Linked DNA regions of Homo sapiens: region 1 is linked to region 2. Evidence: fine-mapped expression QTL. A gene starts in region 2. The other region holds a variant in brackets. All regions are shown on one strand. Distances are from middle to middle.

Region 1 (4,393 bases), 42 kb before region 2:
AAGCTTATATGGGAATTCAAAGATGACCAGTTGCTTTCCTTTATTTTGCATTTCCCTTTCACTGACAACGCATTAGCATGTTGTTTTTATTTGCTAAACTTTTGATAAGGAAAAAAAAAACAGAAGCCCTGCAAAAACTAATAAACTGATCATTGTAACTAGCTTTGCATCTTTCTACCCACCTTTTAAAATAAACCTGAAAGGATTCAATCTTCATTTCATTCATTGAGAAATCCTGTCCATTTGCCTATATTTATAATCCCTTCCTCACGATCAGGCTGAAATTATCTGTTAAACCAGAACAGCATCAGGTCACAGTTCTTCATTCTCCAATAGGATTAAACAGAGTGGGCTTTTAATGCTTGATCTATTTTATAAAATCTCTTGGCCAGGTGCAGTGGCTCACACCTGTAATCCCAGCACTTTGGGAGGCTGAGGTGGGTGGATCACCTGAGGTCAGGAGTTCGAGACCAGCCTGGCCAACATGATGAAGTCCCGTCTCTACTAAAAATACAAAAATTAACTGAATGTGGTGGCAGGCCCCTGTAATCCCAGCTACTCGGGAGGCTGAGGCAGGAGAATCGCTTGAACCTGGGAGGCAGAGGTTGCAGTGAGCCATGATTGTGCCACTGCACTCCAGCCTGGGCGATAGATTGAGACTCCGTCTCAAATACATACATACATACATAAAATGTCTTTATGAGCTGTGTGGATGTAGAAATAGGAATTGGAGTTTCGATGAATCACATTAATTTGTAAAAGAGGAATTTACATCAAATCCTGAATACCACTCTTTTAATAGAGTGATTCAAGGACAAACAGTACACTAAATTTTCTTAGAGTAATTTTTTAGGAGGAAAAAAATAATAAAATTAGTTTTGCTTGTAGAATTTTTGATAACCCCTGAAGATCATTATACTTTCCTTGGGCTTTGGAATTGGGCAGATATAAAAGGGTTCAAAGCAACATGATAACATTTCTTCTCTCATGGAAGGTGAAGCAATTTTAATGTTAAATCTTCAGACTTGGGGAGATGGAGGGGTTCTTTTTTTCTGAAAATTTTCCTTTAAAAAGTGATATTTTCTCACTGTAGATAATTTGGAAAGGTTAAAAAGCCATGTTTTAATGTAGACATTATTTTATATCATTGTAATAATCCTGGATACTCAATTATATATCTGGCTATTTTTCATTCAACTTTATCACAAGTATTTTCTAATGTTATTTTAAAAACTCCTTATGAGCATATTTTTTAATGATGCTTTAAGTTGTTTTGTTTTCTTTCCTCTTTTTTTTTTTTTTTTTTTTTTGAGACGGAGTTTTGCTCTCGTTGTCCAGGTTGGAGTGCAGTGGTGCGATCTCGGCTCACTGCAACCTCCGCCTCCCAGGTTCAAGCGATTCTCCTTGTCTCAGCCTCCCGAATAGCTGGGATTACAGGCATGCGGCACCACACCCGGCTAATTTTGTATTTTTAGTAGAGACAGTGTTTCACCATGTTGGCCAGGCTGGTCTCAAACTCTGACCTTAGGTGATCCGCCCGCCTTGGCCTCCCAAAGTGCTGGGATTACAGGCGTGAGCCACCGCGCCCGGCCCTTCTTTCCTCTTTTTTTGCCAAGCAGGCAACTTTTAAGATCTTTAACCTTCAGAGTTGTTTTAAGGTGTGTCTTCAAGGAAGTTTGAATAAGGAAGGGCACTTTGAATACTTGACTAAGTGGAAATTCAGCATAAAGTGTTGACTGTCTGAATTTATTGAATTCCCATTGTGCAATCTTTAAAGTTTAAATATGTGTAATATTTGACCCAGAATTTTCTTCTAGATATTCAACAGAAATACACACACAAATGAATACGTCTTTACTTTTTTTTTTTTTTCTTGAGATGGAGTCTTACTCTGCCGCCCAGGCTGGAGTGCAGTGGCACGAACTCACCTCCCTGCAGCCTCTGCCTCCTGGATTCATAGGATTCTCCTGCCTCACCCTCCTGAGTAGCTGGGATTACAGGCACGGGCCACCATGCCCGGCTAATTTTTTTGTATTTTTAGTGGAGACTGGGTTTCACCATGTTGGCCAGGCTGGTCTCAAACTCCTGACCTCAGGTGATCCACCCACCATGGCCTCCCAAAGTGCTGGGATTACAGGCTTGAGCCACCACACCCAGCCAACATTTTTTAATAATAACAAAATACTGTAAGCAACCTAAATGCACATCAGTAAGGGGCTTGGATAGATAAAATTATAATGCATGTAAAATGCAATACTATGCAGTCATTACAAGGGATGAAGAAGTATATTTACTGATGTGGAATGATACCCAGAATAATGGGTTAATGAAAAAAGTTACCACTCAGTGTAATGCCATTTCTAGAAATAATATTAATAAGTGTAAACATAGAATATGTATATAAAAATCTAGAAAAGTACCCATTAAACTGTTGGTAGTGATCCTCTAGAGGGGATAAGATTCTAGAACACTTTCACTTTCTAAAGTCTACATTTCTTTTTATTTATTTATTTATTTTTTGAGACAGAGTCTTGCTCTGTAGCCCAGGCTGGAGTGCAGTGGCACAATCTCGGCTCACTGCAAGCTCCGCCTCC[T/C]GGGTTCATGCCATTCTCCTGCCTCAGCCTCCCAAGTAGCTGGGACTACAGGCACCCGCCACCACGCCCGGCTAATTTTTTGTATTTTTAGTAGAGACGGGGTTTCACCGTGTTAGCCAGGATGGTCTCGATCTCCTGACCTCATGATCCACTCGCCTCAGCCTCCCAAAGTGCTGGGATTACAGGCGTGAGCCACCACACCCAGCCTAAAGTATACATTTCTATAATGGGATTTTTCTTTCTTTTTTACAATTTTTTTTGAGATGGAGTTTCAATCTTGTCGCCCAGGCTGGAGTGCAGTGGTGAGATCTCAGCTCACTGCAACCTCCACCTCTGGGGTTCAAGCAATTCTTCTGCCTCAGCTTCCTGAGTGGCTGGGATTACAGGCGTCTACCACCACACCTGGCCAATTTTTATATTTTTTAGTAGAAACGGGGTTTCACCATGTTGGCCAGGCTGGTCTTGAACTGCTGACCTCAGGCTATCCACCCACGTCAGCCTCCCAAAATGCTGGGATTACAGTCCTGAGCGACCACGCCGGGCCTGCAGTTTTTTTTTTTGAGACGGAGTTTTGCTCTTGTTGCCCAGGATGGAGTGCAGTGGTGTGATCTCAGCTAACTGCAACCTCCACCTCCCAGGTTCAAGTGATTATCCTGCCTCAGCCTCCTGAGTAGCTGGGATTACAGGCACGTGCCACCACACCCAGCTAATTTTTGTATTTTTAGTAGAGACAGGGTTTCATCATGTTGGCCAGGCTGGTCTCGAACTCCTAACCTCAGGTGATCCACCCGCCTTGACCTCCCAAAGTGCAGGGATTACAGGTGTGAGCCACCGCGCCCGGCCTACAGATGTATATTAAAGTCCACTATCTGAATATCTTATTCTGCAAATTCTCTGAGATTCTCCATTAGCCATGAGACAATGTGCAATTCCATCTGTGTTGGGTAGGTCCTAAAATTTTCTTTAGATAGCCTTTGGTAATGAGATTTAATGATCAAATGGTGAACTTTAGTATGTACGTGCTAGGTCTTCCTGCTCAGACATACCAAAGCATTGGCCATTTAATATAGAATCTTTATTATGAATGGCTGGAGAATTCACTAAGTTAGATAGATACACTAAGAGGAAAATGACCTTTAAATATAAATAATTGTATTTTCCCTTACCTCCAGGCTATTCTGCACCTAAATTTGTTTCAATCTGTTCTAAATATTACTATAGATGACAATATTATAATCTTTATTGGTCATATGTACCCACAGTACAGGGGAACATTTACTATCATGTTCTCTCTTTTCTCAGTTATTTTCTTTTTCTAAATCCAGTCTCTTTCTTGTAGTTATACAGGTGTTTGTTTTATAATTATTTTCTTAAAACTCTACATATATGTTTTTATACTTTTGTCTATTATTGCATATTCTTAATAAAAAAGTTAAAAACTCGTTTGGAAAGTTTTGTATGTTTTGAGATGCTACAATAGGAAAGTGTGACATTCAAAAATGTAGTTTCTTTATCCTGATCTTCATCATTTCTTTATACTGCTTCTCATTTATAGTTTTGTTGACAATCTGATGTCACTGTCACTGAAACAGAAGTTACATGGTCAGGAGGAAATGAGACAACAAAAGAAAACTTTCTTCCAGTTGCTTTAATATTGGCTAAAATGTTTGCACACCTGTTAAGATTTATTACGAGAATAAATAATGCCTACATAATTACGTGTTCTGAAGGAAGTTATAGTTTAACTTTAATTAGGTAGCTAAACTATAAAAAAAAACAAGTGTTAACCTAAAAAAAAA
Region 2 (4,393 bases):
TCTTGAATTTATTGTTTCTATAAATAATCACCTTGAGGCACACAGTCTTCTCATTCTCTATTCAGTCAGCTGCTAGTCTAGTGGATTCCATTGTCACAGACTCTCTTGGTTAGGTTCACTATTTTCTATTCTTAACTACTACGTTTCTAGGTTAAATCCTAATTATCTCCCACCTAACGTTTGCAGAGGACTCGGCTAGACTGTTCATCTCTGGTAGTTTTCTGCTTGGAATTCTGAGTCTTTTTATTCATTACCACCAAATTATCTCCATAAAGAGCACTTCTTATCTGCCACTCTTTTTTTTTTTTTTTTTTTGAGACGGACTCTCACTGTCACCCAGGCTGGAGTTCAGTGGCGAGATGCGATCTCGGTTCACTGCAACCTCCGCCTCCCAGGTAAAAGCGATTCTCCTGCCTCAGGCTCCTGAGTAGCTGGGACTACAGGTGCACGCCACCACGCCTGGCTAATTTTTGTATTTTTAGTAGAGACGGGGTTTCTCCATGTTGACCAGGATGGTTTCTATCGCCTGACATCATGATCCACCCTCATCGGCCTCCCAAGGTGCTGGGATTACATGCGTGGGCCACCGTGCCCAGCCTTGTTTTGTATTTCTAGTAGAGACAGGGTTTCACCATGTTGGCCAGGCTGGTTTCGAACTCCTGACCTCAAGTGATTCGCCCGCCTACGCCTCCCAGAGTGCTGGCATTACAGGCGTGAGTCACCGCGCCCAGCCAGGCCTGTAAGCTTTCTAAGGGCAGAGACTGCCTTACTATACACGTACCCCCCCCAACTAACACAGTACCATCCACATACAGACAGACGCCCAGGAAATGTTAAACTGTAATTCTGGATAGGTTAACTAGTATTAACCGTATTTACCAAATGTTTACCACATACTTACACTGTCCTCCTTGTTTCAAGGAGCGTAGTCCCCAAGGGATCACCCTGATGGAATATAAAAACTACACATAAGAGTGAAACTACGGAACGTAAGCCATTAGTGTTTTGCAAGACAGCTCGGGTTGAGACTCAGTCTCTCTCTTCCACAGGCCAAGTGACACATCGTAATACCATTGGTACCGTTTTATTTTATTTTTCGCGACAAAGTCTCGTCCTGTCACCCAGGCTGGAGTGCAGTGGCGCGATTTCGGCTCACTGCAACCTCCGCCTGCAGGGTTCAAGCGATTCTCCTGCCTCAGCCTCCCAAGTAATTGGGATTACAAACGCCCGCCACCACGCCCGGCTAATATTTGTATTTTTAGTAGAGACGGGGTTTCACCATGTTGGTCAGGCTGGTCTCGAACTCCTAACCTCAGGTGATCCGCCCACCTCGGCCTCCCAAAGTGCTAGGATTACAGGCGTGAGGCACCGCGCCCGGCCTGTTAGTACTACTTTAAAATCGAATCTGACCTCCAAATCATTTTCTGGAGCTCGATCATTTTCTGCTAACACCGCAAAGCTTAATCCTCTCCACCTGAGAATAAAAGGTTCCATCCTTCCGCTCTCCAGTTTGACGCCCTGCTAAGTCTCTCGGACGCGGTGGGCTGGAGTGAAGGAAGCCGGAGCCCACCAAAGCTGCAAAAGTACCACAGCCAGCAGCCCCGCCCCCGATATCCCCCACAGGCTTCCAATTGGTCCTTGTGGCTCACTCTCTTTCCAGGTTGGTGTTCCAGCTTGCCGGTCGCCTCTATAGAGCCCACCTTTAGACGGCGACTATTGGTAGATCGTTACGTCATTGCCCTATCTACCTCACTCCCACTGGCTCTCATAGGAAGGGGCGGTCGCAACGTCACGGGCAAGGGCCGCCATTTTGACTGAGCAACCCTAGTGACAGGAGCCGAAGCAGCAGCGCAGGTTGTCCCCGTTTCCCCTCCCCCTTCCCTTCTCCGGTTGCCTTCCCGGGCCCCTTACACTCCACAGTCCCGGTCCCGCCATGTCCCAGAAACAAGAAGAAGAGAACCCTGCGGAGGAGACCGGCGAGGAGAAGCAGGTGAAGTGGAAGGGGTGCGGGCGGGCGAGCTGGGGAGACCGTGATGGGGCGGGAGACGGTCTCCCACCAGTGCGGATTGGTCGCCATGGTCTCAGGCTCCGCAGGGGTTGGCCACTTTTTGCGTCACGCTGGGTGAGCTTCAACACGACATGCTGCTTTGGCGCTGGTTAGTTGGGTCGTTTGTCACTCAGTACTGTACTCTTCCTGATTGGCCAATAGGCCTACCGCTCAAACCTTGGACGCTGTGCTATAATTGGCCGAGCATGGACGTGGGGCGGGTGGTTGGAAAGACGGTGAATGGAAAGGGGATGGCTGGTGGTCTTGGGTGTGATGTGTGTTATTGGTTTGTAGAGGTAAGTGACCCAGCAACCGGGCTGGGGCCCGCAGCCTCAATCCGCAAAGATAGGGGTCGAGGTAAAGACGTTTAAAAAAAAACCAGTATTGGGGGAGGGGAGAAGTGTAGTTATTATAATGGCTAGTTTAAGGCGGCAACTTTCTCAAGAGACCTATTTTAGTAGCTAAGGATGGTCTATTGCTCACCTTCAGTGAGGACCCAGCAATATTGAAGAGGGCTAGAGTTCCAAACAGAATCATGGTAATTAAACTTGGAAAAGACGCCGACAGGGTCGTGAGAAAGACACTTCTCTCTTCCCCTAGACTTCCAAGGCAGGGACTTAGTGCACCTGCGATTCCGTGATGGAAACACTAACGCCAAATAAACCCCTTATTGGGGTTTGTATTTGACTTTTAAAATTTAGTACTGGGTTCAGGTACTCATTAAATACACTTGGTGTTATATCTATGCGTAATTTCCAAGAGAAAGGAATATAATTCCACTAAAAAGAGTCATACGTTGACTTCATATCTTTTCAAAAAGTCACTAAAGGGCAGCAGGGACCACAAAAAAAAAAAAAAGAGATTGACTACAGTAGTGAGAGTCCCTGCACCACCAGGGTAGGTATTGATTTTTTTGATGAAAACTGGTGGGTAAATACTAGTGAGCCTACTGTATCTTTGTTTTCCTGAGGTTAAAAACAGTATCATTTTCCTCTCTGTTTATCAGCTTGCTACCATAATATTTGTGGAAATGTTGAAGCAAGGCTGTGCCATTACTCAGGTGGAGATCTTTGGAGAAGGCCACATAGCTAGCCGCCTCCACAGGGAGACCTAACAGGTGGCTTAGACCTTGAATAAAGAAGGAACTGCTTTGTCGTGTAGCAATTTTAAAAAAGAAAGAAAAAAATAAGGAGGAAACATTTAGCAAACTATTTTTTGTTGTTGTAGAGACGGGGTTTCAACATATTGCCCAGGCGGGTAGTGAATTCATGAGCTCAAGTGATGCACCTGCCTCAGCCTCCCAAAGTGCTGGGATTACAGGCATGAGTCACTGCTCCCAGCCCCAAACTATTTTTTTTTTAATTTCTCATGTGACATGTAGGATAGCCTAGGGAACCCTGCTACTCATCCTCTATCACCAGAAGCCCTGCTTTTTTCTCTTTGTCTTTCTTAGCATTTGTGCTGAGTGATATGGCCCACTCTGTGATTAAAGTATTGTGTTTAGTATTACCTTTAGCCCAATACGCACAGGTCCCTGGCTGGTTCCTTGGGTGAAGTGTGAGAAGCAGCTTGTCTTTTTCTCTCACAATAGTCATCTTGAGCTTTAGGGATTTTAACAAAGGTCTAGCTTTAACAGCAGAGTAGAGATAGCGTATTTACAAGTGGGTGGATTTCCAGGAGAAGTTGATAGTATAGTTGTTATCAGATGTGAGAAGCTGTTGTTTCTCAGTCTTTAATTTTATTTGGCTCATTTGTTTTCTCCAGGACACGCAGGAGAAAGAAGGTATTCTGCCTGAGAGAGCTGAAGAGGCAAAGCTAAAGGCCAAATACCCAAGCCTAGGACAAAAGCCTGGAGGCTCCGACTTCCTCATGAAGAGACTCCAGAAAGGGGTATGGGGCATAGTCTCTTACCCTCTTTCTTTGGAGCTAAAGGAGGTTCTTCGAATGAAGTCTGTAGAGGTTCTACTGGATCCTTTTCTGGAGGTTTTGTTGTTGAACAGAAGTAGAGGCGAATTTGAAATTTGAAAAGAGCAAGTCAAATTAATGTAAATCCCTGATGTGGTATCAATTCCCTCCTGATTTCCCATGTAGGAAATTAAGGCCTAAATTGGAGCATTTGGGTGTGTGGGGAAATGAGGGAAAGATGTTAGAAACTGAAATGCAGACTGCCCCCAGGCATTTGCCTGTTTGAATGTTGGAGGTTTTAGGATTGTGCACTTTTTAAGCATTAGAGATAAATTTTGGGATGCATCATTTCAGAAGAAGATCAAACCATCTCTCCTACAGAAATAAATCCTCAACTTGAAATGAATCAGTTTCTTCATACCCTTGAAGTGAGCACCAGCC

Evidence for each region. PIP is the estimated chance that this variant, and not a neighbour inherited with it, causes the effect. A credible set is the group of variants that fine-mapping cannot tell apart.
Region 1: its variant is the best candidate, but not a certain one, in a credible set for the expression of ENSA in whole blood (TOPMed, PIP 0.61).

What each region holds. Positions count from the first base shown.
Region 1 is chr1:150,668,724-150,673,116 of GRCh38, reverse strand. All of the region lies in intron 2 of GOLPH3L (golgi phosphoprotein 3 like), which reads left to right. Among named protein-coding and RNA genes, the nearest start is that of GOLPH3L, 26 kb to the left of the region's middle. The variant T/C (reference allele first, on the strand shown) is at 2,595.
Region 2 is chr1:150,627,011-150,631,403 of GRCh38, reverse strand. It overlaps ENSA (endosulfine alpha), which reads left to right and starts at 1,792. Exons shown (of 4, transcript NM_004436.4): 1 at 1,792-1,990; 2 at 3,812-3,937. The coding sequence starts at 1,934. LOC112268239 (a long non-coding RNA gene) reads right to left here and starts at 1,585. Exons shown (of 2, transcript XR_007066603.1): 1 at 902-1,585. RefSeq lists enhancers at 128-1,097, 1,098-2,065, 1,808-2,077.